Homo sapiens: one gene and its partners. The protein of the gene in region 2 interacts with the protein of the main gene of each other region in a biochemical or structural test. Each region holds a gene or a part of one and is shown on either strand. Other genes may lie near its edges.

Region 1 (4,488 bases), about 42 Mb from region 2:
CTTCTCACTGCCACAGGCTACGCCGGCAGCCAAGGTTGAGGGAGGGGCGGGGCTGCGAGGGGCTGCAGCAGTGGAACCTGGACCTTGAGCAAGGCCCACAACCCTGATGGAGCCTGTTTTGCTGGGGGTGGGGAGGTGCTGCCTCACTCAGCAGATCCCCCAGGCCTCCTGCCAGACCCGCCTCTGCCTGACTTCCCTGGAGAACACAGATGGGCCCGACGCCCTCCCCCTCGCACCTCGCTGACTGCGAAGGTCCCAGGTGGAGGCACCAGTTGTCCCGGACTCAGCTGTGCTCGGGGTCAGGCTCCCAGGGCCACGTAAGCCTGGCCACTGCCCCAGACCACCAGGCGGCCCTGAGGAGGGCAGGTGGGCACACAGGCAGCCACTGCCTACCTGGAAGACACCTTGTGCGTCGGCAGACACAGCCGCATGCAGCGGGGTGCGGCCCATGTTGTCCTGGATGTTGGCATCTGCGCTGGCCTCCAGCAGGCGCTTGGCGGCATCAGAGCGTGAGTAGCGGGCGGCCAGGTGCAAGGCGGTCTCGCCCGTGCGGTCTGTCTGGTTGTGCAGGCTGGCGCCCTGGTAGATGAAGTCGGAGATGACGGCCGGCGCGTCCTCCTCTTCCTCGCTGTTGCCCGTCTCCAGGCCGCCCCCGCTGCAGGAGGCGATCATGAGCGGGGTGAAGCCATCTGCAGAGGCAGAGACGGGTGCTCAGTCTGGAGGGCCGGTCCCCAGCTGCAGCCCAGGGGGAGGGGGGCAGCAGCCCCAAGCTCAAGGGGCCACGGTGTGGATGCACCACCCAGCACTTGGTGGCCCCGTGCACACAGCCACCAAGGGGCAGCTGAAGTCCGCCTGGGCTGCTCAGTGGACAGAGCCGAATCCAGCTTAAACTCCTGGCGGGCAACTGCTTCCTGACCTGCCCAAGACCTGGCACCCAAAATCCACCCAGGAAAAAGAGGACCCCAGAAGCATGCAGTTAGAAAATTAATGCTTCAGCAGGATGCGGAGGCTCACGCTGTCATCCTAGCACTGGGGGAGGCCGAGGTGGGCGGATCACCTGAGGTCAGGAGTTCGAGACCAGCCTGGCCAACATGGTGAAACCCCATCGCTGCTAAAAATACAAAAATTAGCCAGGTGTGGTGGCAGGCGCCTGTAGTCCCAGCTACTGGGGAGGCTGAGGCAGGAGAATTGCTTGAACCCGAGAGGTGGAGGTTGCAGGGAGCCGAGATCGTGCCACTGCACTCCAGCCTGGGTGACGGAGCGAGACTCCATCTCAAAAACAAAAAAAAAAGAAAAAAAAAAAGAAAAAGAAAATCAACGCTTTCCATGTCTCAAGAAGGTTTCAGAAAAGAGTAATTTACAGGGACAGAGTGGCCCTGCGGTATCACCCCAGGAAGGGGTTGGTGGAAGAACAGGAGGACTCCAGGACCCCCCCACGTCTACTCTGAATGGGAAACACCCCAAGGATGAAAGCTCTCACCCCCAATTCTAAGTTTCCAGAGTATCAACTGTACCCCAGCCTCGGGGCTTAGGGGAGAGAGGCAGGTGGGCCACGGGGCTAGGGAAGCCCTGGCTGCTGGCACCCTTACCAGGCCCGCGGACATTGACGTCCATGCAGTCGGCGTCAACCTCACCCTGGGGCGGTGTGGGGGCCATGGCAGACATGCGCAGGTCAGCGGCATCCAGGTGCTGCTGAGTCCACTGCCGGTGGTCTGTCTGGTCGTCCAGGTCAGGCAGAACCACGGGCTCCTCGAACTACATAGAGGGAGTGAGCAGAGCCTGTCAGGGCAGCCCGGCAGCAGGTGCCCGGGAGCCCAGGAGCCCGGGAGCCTCGCGACTCACCCGGAACTTCTTGGTCTCCAGGTCCTCGTCCCCCCACTCATTCTGGTTGTCGTCCATGAGGGCACCGTCTGAAGCGTTCTTCAGGGGCCTGGGGGGTGAGGGGTCGAGAAGTGAGGCTGAGCGAGCTCCCTAGGAAGCCCCCAGAGACCCCTGGCCCGGGCCTGGCGTGGGAGGTGGGCCCTGGGTCGGGAGGGGCAGACTCCCGGTGAGGATGCTCGGCCAGGTCCCACCTCCCACCGGGGACCCAGAAGCAGGGGCGGCGTCCGCTCACTTGAGGCCCACGGAGTCCTCGCCGAGGGGCTCCCGCCGCTTCTTCTTGCTGGCCTCAGACACTTTGAAGCCCTCAGGGAACCAGAGCTGGCCATGCTGCCGCCGGCGCTTGCGGGACAGCAGCACCCCGCAGCCCACGAAGAACAGAAGCACAAAGGCGGCCGCCGCCACGTACATGAAGTGCAGCTGCGCCGGCGGGGGCGGCTCCACGGTCTCACCTGCGGGCACGGGGGCCAGGGGCAGGTGCCCGGACATCAGGCAGCGGCTACGCAGCAGGCTGGTGGCCGGGGGGCGGCGGACTGGCTCCGCGTCCGGGCGCCTCCTCACCCACTCTCCTCCATCCCGCCCTCCAAAATAAGGTCATTTTCTACGCGATTAATCAGAATTGCAAACTATCGCTAAATTCTCTCCTGCACCAGCCGACTCTATCTGGAGACGGCTTTTACTTTTTTCTCCTTTAAGGAAGGAGGATTAGTCAACTTCAAATCGCTGCACTCGCACTGAGCTGTTAAGACAAAGGATTTAGAGGGATTTTCAAGATACAAACTTCAACACTTCACATGACACCGATCAATTCTTCTCTCTCTCTCTTTTTTTTTCTTTAAAAAAAGCCGTAATGATTTTGAAATAATACCCAACAAAGAAAATTCAGGAGGAAAGGGTGGGGAGAGAAGCAGGCACCCACTTTCCCGTGGCTGGACTCGTTCCCAGGTGGCTCCACCGGCAGCTGTGACCGCCGCAGGTGGGGGCGGAGTGCCATTCAGAAAATTCCAGAAAAGCCCTACCCCAACTCGGACGGCAACGCTCACACCCGTGGGTAGCAACTGGCACAAACAGCCAGCGTGTCTGGGGCACGGGGGGATGGCACCCCCTGCAGGCAGAGCCTGTTCCCGGGATGGGGCCACACTTACTCTGCACGGCCTCGATCTTGTAGGGGATGTTGAGGCTGCCCAGCGAGGCGAGCGCTCCCAGGAATGCGGCCACGTCGGTGGCACTCTGGAAGCACTGCGAGGAGGCCTGCACACACTGCCGGTTGTCAATCTCCAGGTAGACGATGGAGCTGGGCGGACAATCAGAGAGGGGCTGGGACCCGAGGCTTCCTCCTCCCCCGCCCACCGGCCAGGGATGCTGCCGCAGGACACTGAGGCCCATGACGCCACAGTCAGGACATGGTGAGGCAGCCTGGGGTGGTGGGAAGCCAGGTCTGACAGCAGCTACCCTGCAGGGGACTGGTGCCAGCCCCCCGACTCCGGCCAGTGCTGATCACGGCTCATCCCAGATACCCACCAACGCGCTCTCCCTGGCCCGCCCTGACACCCTCTCTGGCTCCTGCTGGTGCCACAGACACGTTTCCTCATCTCAGGACAGAGTATGTGCCAGGAGCCCAGTCCTCCCCCAGGAGCCATCCCCAGGCCCTGCAGGAAGCACAGGCGTGAGGTGGGGGTGGGTGCAGCGGTGGTGGGCTGTGTGGTGAGGCTGGCTGGGGGTGAGCTCTGCTCCCCAGGACTGGGTTCCCGTGAGCAGGATCCCATCCAGCCTGTGAGATGATGCTTCTGACCTCCAGGATTGCTCCAAGCCAGCAGAACTGACAGGCAAACCCACCAGGGTCAGGCACACGAAGGGCACAACCAACCTGGCTCCTGGGTCCAGCTGCCCCAGATCGAGTAGGCATGGGCGGGAGCCTTGTGGGGTGCCCCCTGCACTCAAGCTGCTCCTGCCTGTGTTCTCCCACCGTGGGACCCCCCACCCCCACCAGCTCCTCCTCCAACTGCAAGGCCCAGCAATGCCCCCTCCCAGGACCTCCACCTGCCTCCTCTCCAGCCCAAGCCAGGCAGACGCCATGACCAAGCGGCATTCTTGTCTGGGGTGGGGCTGTTCAGCCCTGTGGGAACCCCTGGAGAGCTGAGTGTTTTGTTTTTTACTTCTTTTAATACTTTTTTAAAAAAAACAGAGACAAGGTCTCCCTATGTTGCCCAGACTGGTCTCGAACTCCTGGGCTCAAGGGCTCCGCCTGCCTCAGCCTCCCAAAGTGCTGGGATTACAGGTGTGAGCCTCCTCGCCTGGCAGAGGGCTGAGTTTTAATCAGTGTAGTATCCAGTGCCTAAGGCACAGCTCAATCTCAAAATCACCTACTGGGCACAGGAGTGCCGCCTGTCCAGGGGAAGGCAGTGGCCCAGGAAAAGGGTGTGGCTGTGGGGTCAGGGCCCTGAGCTGGAATGCTGCCTCTACTCCTTGCCTGCGCAGGCCCTGAAGTCCCAGGTCCTCTCGGAACCTCCGTCTCTTTTACCATAAAGTGGGGAGAGTACTGCTTGCCATGGCGCCGGCCGTGAGGGGCAGGGAGGCCGTCGGGGAGGGCCCAGGAGAGTTGCGGGGATT
Region 2 (5,291 bases):
AGAGTTTTCAAAAATATCCTGGCTGGGCACGGTGGCTCATGCCTAATCCTAGCACTTTGGGAGGCTAAGACAGGAGGATTGCTTGAGCCCAGGAGTTTGAGACCAGCCTGGGCAGCATAGAGAGACTCCTTCTGTAAAAAAAAAAAAAAAAAAAAAAAAAAAAAAAAAAATTCAATTAGCTGGGCATGATGCTGCACATCTGTAGTCCCAGCTACTCAGGAGGCTGAGACAGGAGGTATCACTTGAGCCAGGAGTTCGAGGCTGCAGTGAGCCATGACTGTGCACTCCAGTCTGGGTGACAGAATGAGGCCCTGTCTCTAAAAACAAAACTAAACAAAACAAATTTCTAGCGTAATTCCCAAAGTAGATAACTTTCAGTGGTAGTGGGAATACCGCAGATTCCTGTTTTGAGTGGGATTTTCAGTGGTGTGCAGGAGCTGGCTGGTATCGGCTCTCAGGAGCTAACGGTGCACATCTCTTCCCAACTCTGCCTTCAGTGATATCACATTGGTAGCTTAAAATCAACGATGGGAGAGTATTCACACCATTGACAGAGGCAAGTGGACATATCAGAGACTTGTTTGTTTGCTTTGAGACCCAGTTTACCAGCACATCACTGGGAGTTTTCCATCTCCAAATTAGCCACTTTACAATGTCGTTTTTAAATGTCTGTAGCAGATTAACATGATTCCCTGCCCTCTTGCTCTTCACAGACCACCCTCACTAATGCAGGAGGAACTGGAAACTGGAACACAGGAAGCTGCCTATCATGAAGGCCCATGATAGACAAGAGAAGTCCGGCGTGAGTGATGGAGAATATTAAACAACAAATCTAAGCCATACGCCTAAAGCTGCCAAAGACCTTGAAAGGCCCAGCTGAGAAAAACATGAACTTCAAGTCTGGCATGTACGGCTATTTTAGGAATGATGAAAAACAACTTCATCAGATGTGGCTCCTGCCCTCTTAATAGGGTGAGGACAGGCAGCCTCTTCATCTTCTCATTGTTTTTTCCTAATTCTACTCCTTCATGTTCCCAGTTCCTCTCAAACTGGGAAAGATAGTAAGCCCATATAACTGCACTTCTAATCTCAGAAGTTTTTTTTTCTAATTACAATTGTTGTTTTATAAAAGCTGGGAATACTCTTTCATTTAACAATCTTTTTCAACAGTCATTTGTTGTTGAGGCCCTCCAATGTGCCAGGCATTGCACTAGACACTGGGACACAGAGACAAATAAGATTCATTTTCTGCTCTCAAAAAGCAGAGATAACGCCAGGTGTGGTGGCTCACACCTGTAATCCCAGCACTTTGGGAGGCCAAGGTGGGCGGGTCACTTGAGGTCAGGAGTTCAAGGCCAGCCTGGCCAACATGGTGAAACCTCATCTCCACTAAAAATACAAAAATTAGCCAGGTGTGGTGGCGGGAACCTGTAATCCCAGCTACTCAGGAGGCTGAGGCAGGAGAATCGCTTGAACCCAGGAGGCGGAGGTTGCAGTGAGCCAAGATCACACCACTGTACACCAGACTGGGCAACAAGAGCAAAACACTGTCTCAAAAAAAAAAAAAAAAAAAAAAAAAAAAGAAGCAGAGACAGACCAATAGGGACTCCAATGCGTGCATCAGGGATGGAAGTTTCAAGCAGTCTAGGTCAACAGGAGGGTCAGTGTGAAGGTCAGGAATTTGGTGGATAGGGATGTAGTACAAGAGGTGACCAACAGAAGCCAGGGTTTGAAGAGCCTTAAACATGGCAATAAAAAGTTAGAAATGGAGATGAGTTTGTGGGAGTCCACTGGGGAGAAGGCGGCGTGAGCCACAACACTCATCTGCACAGTGGCTCAGGGAGGATTCGAGAGATGGCAGCAGTGAGGTGGAAGCTATGAAAAGACCACAGCAGGGATCTAGAGGGACTCCCAGAAACCCAGCTCAGCTGAACAAGTGGAGTCAATTATGAAGCTGGGAAGAAGACCGGCTACATTAAAACCCTCAATGGTGGAAGTACAGACCCACCCTTTTCTCCGGTTCCACTATGATGGCGTGTTTATCTTCTTCTGACACGAGAACACACGTGGCAAAGGATGACTTTAACATGTTCATAACCAGGTCGTTGGAGAGGACGTCCAGCTTCTTAACTTGATCACCTGTCACGTTGGTAGAACCAGCAATGCCATAGCTACAGGGAACAAAAGCCACAAAAAATAAGCCATGACCACCAGAACATGTAGATGAGTCCATAAACCCACCAAAAGTGAGTGTTCGGTAAGATTTAGAAGAAAGAGTTCATGTCCTTTGCAGGGACATGGATGAAGCTGGAATCCATCATTCTCAGCAAACTAATACAGGAACAGAAAACCAAACACCACATGTTCTCACTCATAAATGGGAGTTGAACAATGAGAACACATAGACACAGGGAGGGGAACATCACACACTGGGGCCTCTCAGGGAGCTGGGGACTAGGGGAGGGAGAGCATTAGGAGAAATACCTAATGTAGATGACAGATTGATGGGTGCAGCAAACCACCATGGCATGTTTATACCTATGTAACAAACCTACGCATTCTGCATGTGTATCCCAGAACTTAAAGTATAATAATAATTTTTTTAAAAAAGGGCCGGGCGTGGTGGCTCACGCCTGTAATCCCAGCACTTTGGGAGGCTGAGGCGGGTGGATCATGAGGTCAGGGGATCGAGACCATCCTGGCTAACATGGTGAAACCCCGTCTCTATTAAAAAATACAAAAAAGTAGCCGGGTGTGGTGGTGGGTGCCTGTAGTCCCAGCTACTTGGGAGGCTGAGGCAGGAGAATGGCGTGAACCCAGGAGGCGGAGCTTGCAGTGAGCCGAGATCGTGCCACTGCATGCCAGCCTGGGCGACAGAGCGAGACTCCGTCTCAAAAAAAAAAAAAAAAAAAAAAAATACAAAAAATTAGCCGGGTGTGGTGGCGGGCGCCTGTAGTCCCAGCTATTCAGGATGCTGAGGCAGGAGAATGGCGTGAACCCGGGAGGTGGAGCTTGCAGTGAGCCGAGATCGCACCACTGCACTCCAGCCTGGGCGACAGAGCAAGATTCCGTCTAAAAATATATATATTTTTAGAAGAAAGGAAGGAGGACATCAGCTTGGGAGAACAAGGCAGGAAGGTCTGGACAGACCCTAGAGAGGAGGAGATACTATCATCTGCCTCTTCACCTCGAACCTGTCATGGTGCCCTGCACACTTTTGTGGTTAAATCAGTGTTTCTTAACTTTGTTTTCATTATGATTCCCCTAGGGAGCTTTTTAGAACATTTTTTCCTCAACCATACTCCCCCATGAAATATTTTTAATACTACAGATATAGTAGATATCTGTTTATTGCAGTATGTGTCTCAGTGCTTTTTACATAAAAAGTTTGCGGGTGTTTTTGGTTTTGCCCAGAAAGAACCAGTGTTGGCCCCCAAACACACGGGTTAAACGAATCAATAGAGAGACCCAGCAAGCAAGGAAGCCTGGGTCGGGGGTAGCCTGAGTTGCGAGCCAAGCCAAGGGGTTTATGGCTTTATAACTAAAAAGACCCTAAAAGAAACAAAGCATCAACCGGCCCCTCTGCCTCATTTCATAGAGGAGAAAACTCAGACCCAAGACTCCTGTGGACTTCTCCACACAGGCAGAGGGTAGAAGTGAGACGCTGCCTATGACTCCCAGGCAGAGGGTGGAGGCGAGACCCTGCCTATGACTCCCAGGCCAGGGCTCTCTTGGTGACACCCTGGGCCCCTGGCAGGAGTCCTAGGGCATGGAAGTTGCAGGGATCCTGGAGTTTTCACTATTTTTAAGCAACCTGCAAGTCAGTAATTATAGAATTCCCAGAATCCAGTGGCTTGTCTAAACGCAGCCTAGCTTCTTAGACTTACAGAAGCGGCAGGTTGTCATAGCCTGGGGTTGCCCTGAACACAGAAAGGAGGGAGACGTCTCACAGGAAGGATGCACAGAGCAAGGCGAGAGCCTTGATGTGGGAAGGGGAAAAGATGGGTCTTTGAAGACACCAGCAAGCCTCTGAAAGTGGGTGGTAAGGGCACACCCGCGCCCTTGGCCATGATGGCGATGTGCGCTCGCCTGGGAACTGACGGTCCCTGATCCAGTGGCCGTGACTGCTTCAGCTCCTGCAAGTGCATTTGCCCAAAACATAACTCGCTGTGACTGGCTGGGCAAAACTGAGCCCCTCCTAGAAACCATCCAAACCCACATGCCTGGTCCGGCCTGACTATCTCAGGAGCTAGCTCCGGCTGTCTTCTCGGGCCCGCCTGTCAGCGTCTTTCAGCCACTCTTGGCATCATTCCCTTTCCAGCCTGCAAAGCACATCTCATCCCACCAGCCCTCCTCCTGCTGCTTCTCTTTTCACCCATCACTCCTATTTCATGAGTAAAAGACCAAGATGTCTATCGAGCTTTGAGCTCCACCCCATGTCCCTGGGCTTTCGATCCTATTTCCACATGATCTTTTTCTGACCCCAATTGTGAGGCTGGGGCTTGTGCAGGAAGAAGGCAGCCAAAATCTGGGAGGCCAGAGGGACTTGGCAGGGCCCACCAGCTCAAATGCAGCTCCCTCAGTGACCCCACTAGCAGCAGTGCTCTCTCCTTTCCAGCCTGAGAGTTGCACTGTCAAAGTCACTTTATGATTATTTTTATTTTTATTTTTATTTTTATTTTTGGAGACAGTGTCACTCTGTTGTCCAGGCTGGTGTGCAGTTGCGTGATCTCGGCTCACTGCAACCTCCGCCTCCCAGGTTCAAGCGATTCTCGTGCCTCACCCTCCTGAGTAGCTGGGACTATAGCCGTATGCCACCACATCCAGCTAATTTTTGTATTTTTAGTACAGACAGGGTTTCACCATGTTGGCCAGGCTGGTCTCGAACTCCTGACCTCAAGTGATCCACCCACCTCAGCCTCCCAAAGTGCTGGGATTACAGGCATGAGCCACCGTGCCCAGCCCACTGTCAAACTCACTTCTGATTCCGGAGGGCAAATAGCACCGATGGACCAGAAGAAGGGCTTCAAGGCAGAGACCAGGTCCAGGCCTCAGCTCCCAGGCTCCCCTGCTCTTTCTGAGCCTCCCTCCCTTTCACATGTGTCCAAAGAGGGAAGTGAAGTCTGCCCCCACGCGGCTGTCAGAGGATTGCATGAGATGACATACACAAAAGGCCTAGCACTAATAGGTGCAGCCTGACAGGGACAGCTCGGGGGGCCGGGAGGGCTGGGCAGAGGGGCCGAAGGCACTGGACACGGATGAGGCACTGAGGCAGGTGCAGAAGGAAAGTC
Region 3 (4,488 bases), on a different chromosome or scaffold from region 2:
GGCGACAAAGCGAGACTCTGTCTCAAAAAAAAAAAAAAGAAAGAAAAAGAAAAAATATATGAGGTTAATTTAGAAAGTTTTTTGAGTTCTCAAGAATTTGCGTTAGGGCATATATATCAGAAAGTTTGCTATAAGTTTAAAAATCATGTACTATCACATACATTTATCTCAAAAATAATAAAAGAACTATAACTTGAATGTTACATATAAATACCTTTGACTCAAAGCGACAGATAACACGTTAGGGCTTCTTGGATGAGATTTTTCTGTCTGTTCTATGACTCCTTTTCCTGCTCTGTTTGGTGAGGCTGTCCGACTTTGAGTATCTCTATATGGTGATGATGTGGCACTAGTAGTTTCTTTATGTATGTGGGTAGGAGATGGAGATGCAATCAATATTTTAATGTCTTCCATACGGTCTTTTGTCACTGTTTTTAATTCATCAGTGGTGGCAGTGGTAGTGGTGGCATTAGCAGTAGGTTCTTGTATTTGAGTCTGCTGGAATACTGTAACTGTGCTTTGAGGACTTGCGCTTTCAGGGCTTGCGGAACTGCTTTCTAATGGTGACAACTGATCGAAGGAACGTAACTGGAAGTCATCATCCATTGGGATATAGGGAGCTAACATCTCCAAGTCTAAATCTGTGTCCTTTAAAACAGCAAATACATGAGTTTTTACAATGGCCACACCTTATAAATAAAAAACAAGTGAAACTCAAAGTCACTTCAGACTAAAAATTAATGAAATTTAATATAAAACAAATAAGTTCATATACCTGAGTAGAAAATGGGTTCTTTGCTTCTGTGTCTTCAGCAAAAAGTTTTTCTACCAATTCCAACTTGAATTCATTGACCATATCACTATCCACATAAAAACAATATTCACTGGGACTATTAGGCTGTAAAAAGAAATATGTTTACTATTTCCTGAAGAAGCTTCCATATACTTTGCTAGTTGTCAGAATTTTCAAACTAGATCTCAGAAAAACCAGAAAACACACAACCAAGTCCATCGTGTTTATCAAATTTTATTTAACTAGGCCGGGCTCAGTGGCTCACGCCTGTAATCCCAGCACTTTGGGAAGCCAAGGTGGAGGGATAATGAGGTCAAGAGATCGAGACCATCCTGGCCAACATGGTGAAACCTCGTCTCTACTAAAAATACAAAAATTAGCTAGGCATGGTGGCAAACGCCTGTAATCCCAGCTACTCAGGAGGCTGAGGCAGGAGAATCACTTGAACCTGGGAGGCAGAGGTTGCAGTGAGCCAAGATCATGCCACTGCACTCCAGCCTGGCGACAGAGTGAGACTCCATGTCAAAAAAAAAAAAAAAAAAAAAAATTTGTGAAAATAGTGACATTTTGAAGCTTATACTGGTAACTAATTTTGCCAATATATATATTTCTGACTATGTAATATAACATCATTTACAAAATTGAGATGAAAAGAAACACCTTATTCTAAAGAATAAAACCTATTTGGTAATTCACATCCCACAATGGTACCTAATTGACCAATTAACTAGATGCTACATTCACTGGAATTTACCTTTGAACTGAGAAGGCACACTCCTGTGGTGACTGAGCTACCTAAAAATCTCACTGTTACTGTCGGGGGTGGGAGTAGAAACCTAAGTTATTTTACCTGCATATACCTGAACGAATGTACATTATTACTATTTTAAGAGTTCTGGGCAAGAAGTTTAACAAAAAACTATAGCTGTGTATTCTAAACAAGAAATTTTGCTTTCCTCATTCTAACGTTTTTGTTAGATTTACTTTTGTTAGATAAAAACCAAGATGAATCAAACATTTTTTTTTCTGGGTAAATTAAGCAACCAGAGCATAGGATATATATTCATTCAACACAAGGCTGTGAGATGTCAAATCCCCTACTCTTAGCTTGTCAGTTTTATTCAACAAATACCTAATGTAGAATTATTTACCACTTATTAAAGCTTATTTATGCCTCATTTATCAAGTTATAATGTTCAGATCTAAGTTGCCCTACTCCTGAGCATATTTTTAGATGTAGGAAGCCCTAAAATGGAATCATTCTAGATTTAGAAATAGAGCCCTGTGTGATATCTCTAAGTCTTGGCCAGCCTAGCCTTTAAAGATTATTTTTGTGTTCATAGGACAATTAATATCAAGACAGATCCAGAATAAAAAAGACCAGTTACTAAGTATTTATTTTATGTAACACTTGTTATTTTCATATTATACTTACCCAAAATTTCAAAATAGTGATGGAAATTAGACTAAATTGGGCAAAGAATTTATAAGGTCCTTTCCCATTTAAACCCTCGTAAGTCTATTGCTACCAGACAGTTCTCCAACTCAAAGGGGTAATGGGCCAGGCATGGTAGCTCACGCCTGTAATCCTAGTACTTTGGGAGGCCAAGGCAGGAGGATCGCTTGAGCCCAGGAGTTTAAAACCAGCCTGAGCAACATAGTGAGAACCCCAACTCCACACACACACACAAAAAAAGGTTAAAAAATTAGCCAGGCATGGTGATGCAGGCCTGTAGTCCCAGCTACTTGGGAGGCTGAGGTGGGAGAATCATTTGAGCCTGGGAGGTTGAGGCTGTGATTGCACCACTGCACTCCAGCCTGGGTGATAGTGAGACTCTTTCTCAAAACAAAACAAAACACAATAAAACAAACTAAAAGGGGTAACAGGTATAGGCTGTAGCTACCTTGAGCACACTTAGTACTATTCTCTTTAAATGTCCAAATTCAAGATGTTTTTGTCCTACTGATATAAATAATAGAGAAACAATGTACGTTTCACCTTTTGGTTTATATTAAGCTAGTTTCTTCCCATGTTCCTGACTATCTTTGAGCCTAAAACATGTGCTCAGGTCTAGGTTAGGCAGTAGCTCTTGCAATAATTTTAAAGTGCTAAAATTCAAACACACACACAAATGTAATTTGTGGTTCAAATAAGTGTTTGAATCAAACTTATAAATACATTCTTGAATGTTAAAATCTGAAAGTTGTCCCTTTCTGATTATATCATGACACCTACCTCAGGTGAACTTTGTCTAGTGCTTCCATCGGAAGGACTAGGTGTCTGATCCTGAATCTGGGGCATGGTAAAAGAAAGTTCCAGTGACTCTGGATTTGGTTCTAATTTTAATGCAACTTCTTGATTGAGTGCAGGGTCAGCACTACTTCGAAGTGGCTTTGGCGTTTCAGCGGTGGGTAATGGAGACATTGCCAAATTTATATTCTGTAATTTTTCGTTGGGTGAGGGGAGCATTACATCATTATATAATGGTACTTCCTCAAGTTGCTGGTCATCAGTTTCTGTGTCTGTGGGGAAAAAATATGAGTCAATCTAAAGTATAGAAGGATTTTTTTTTTTTTTTACCCAAGACAGAGTCTTGCTCTGTTGCCCAGGCTGGAGTGCAATGGCGCAATCTTGGCTCACTGCAACCTCTGCCTCCCAGGTTCAAGCAATTCCCCTGCCTCAGCCTCCCAAGTAGCTGGGATTACAGGCGCACACCACCACGCCCAGCTAACTTTTGTATTTTTGGTAGAGACGGGGTTTCACCATGGTGGCCAGGCTGGTCTCGAACTCCTAACCTCAAGTGATCCACCCGCCTCGGCCTCCCAAAGTGCTGGGATTACAGGCGTGAGCCACTGCGCCCGGCCACAAGGATTTTCACATATAAAAAATTTATGTTCTTTTTCACAAAAGGTTTGTCTAATTCATCAAACAACAAAATGTCACCAAATTTTCCTTCATCAGAAAGTTTACATACAATAGTATAGTATAACCATAAGTCTGAGTTACCTTTACAATCCACTATTGATACCGCGTCTTAATCTCTATGGCATAAAAGACAAAAGGCAATACCAACCTTTTTATACATTAAAATGTTCTCTACTTTAAAATTGCAGTTTTCATCTTCAATGCTTGATGTTATAGTATGACTACTTTTTTATCCTTTAATGCAACAATGCCTACTTCCATATAACTCTGCTAAACTGTGGAGAAAATCTGACAGCAGGATACAGAAATAGAGTAGCCAGGAAAAATTTATGTGGGAAGAAGAAATACCTTAAGGACACTTTGAAGCACAATTTCCAACAGTATAAAAAAGCAAGAATGGTAAGAAATTACGGGGGCAAAAATATTTAAGCAAATACATTTAAGAAAACTATAAACATATATTAGCTTGTAATGTCCAAATGATTACCAACAAAAACCGTAAAGTAATGTTTAGTTGAAATGGGGCTTGTAGCAACAGACACAATTTAGGGGATTAACAAAAATAACTACTCACCGTTGCTGCCAAAATCTAAAGATATGATTGTGTCTCCAGCGGCTGGGGCCAGCAAAGTTAAAGCATCAGGTTCCTTCTTAAGTTTGTCAAAGAGGCTACTTGTATCTTCTGATTCAACTTTGGTGAATAGCTGAGTCATTTTCATATCTGAAGATTCAACCGGTTTAAGGACACATTCTGTTTGTTGAAGGGAGA

Evidence for each region. Proteins that work in one complex are often made in the same cells at the same time.
Region 1: the proteins of FBP1 (region 2) and NOTCH1 form a complex in vitro, tested with the Homo sapiens proteins (one study listed by BioGRID).
Region 3: the proteins of FBP1 (region 2) and HIF1A form a complex in vitro, tested with the Homo sapiens proteins (one study listed by IntAct).

What each region holds. Positions count from the first base shown.
Region 1 is NC_000009.12:136,500,159-136,504,646, forward strand, and holds part of NOTCH1 (neurogenic locus notch homolog protein 1 preproprotein), read right to left. Parts: intron 3,173-4,488; coding exon 3,024-3,172; intron 2,331-3,023; coding exon 2,114-2,330; intron 1,931-2,113; coding exon 1,843-1,930; intron 1,756-1,842; coding exon 1,590-1,755; intron 690-1,589; coding exon 394-689; intron 1-393. UniProt on the Homo sapiens protein: Functions as a receptor for membrane-bound ligands Jagged-1 (JAG1), Jagged-2 (JAG2) and Delta-1 (DLL1) to regulate cell-fate determination.
Region 2 is NC_000009.12:94,618,321-94,623,611, forward strand, and holds part of FBP1 (fructose-1,6-bisphosphatase 1), read right to left. Parts: intron 2,172-5,291; coding exon 2,009-2,171; intron 1-2,008. UniProt on the Homo sapiens protein: Catalyzes the hydrolysis of fructose 1,6-bisphosphate to fructose 6-phosphate in the presence of divalent cations, acting as a rate-limiting enzyme in gluconeogenesis. Plays a role in regulating glucose sensing and insulin secretion of pancreatic beta-cells.
Region 3 is NC_000014.9:61,736,915-61,741,402, reverse strand, and holds part of HIF1A (hypoxia-inducible factor 1-alpha), read right to left. Parts: coding exon 4,294-4,488; intron 3,317-4,293; coding exon 3,030-3,316; intron 899-3,029; coding exon 776-898; intron 649-775; coding exon 215-648; intron 1-214.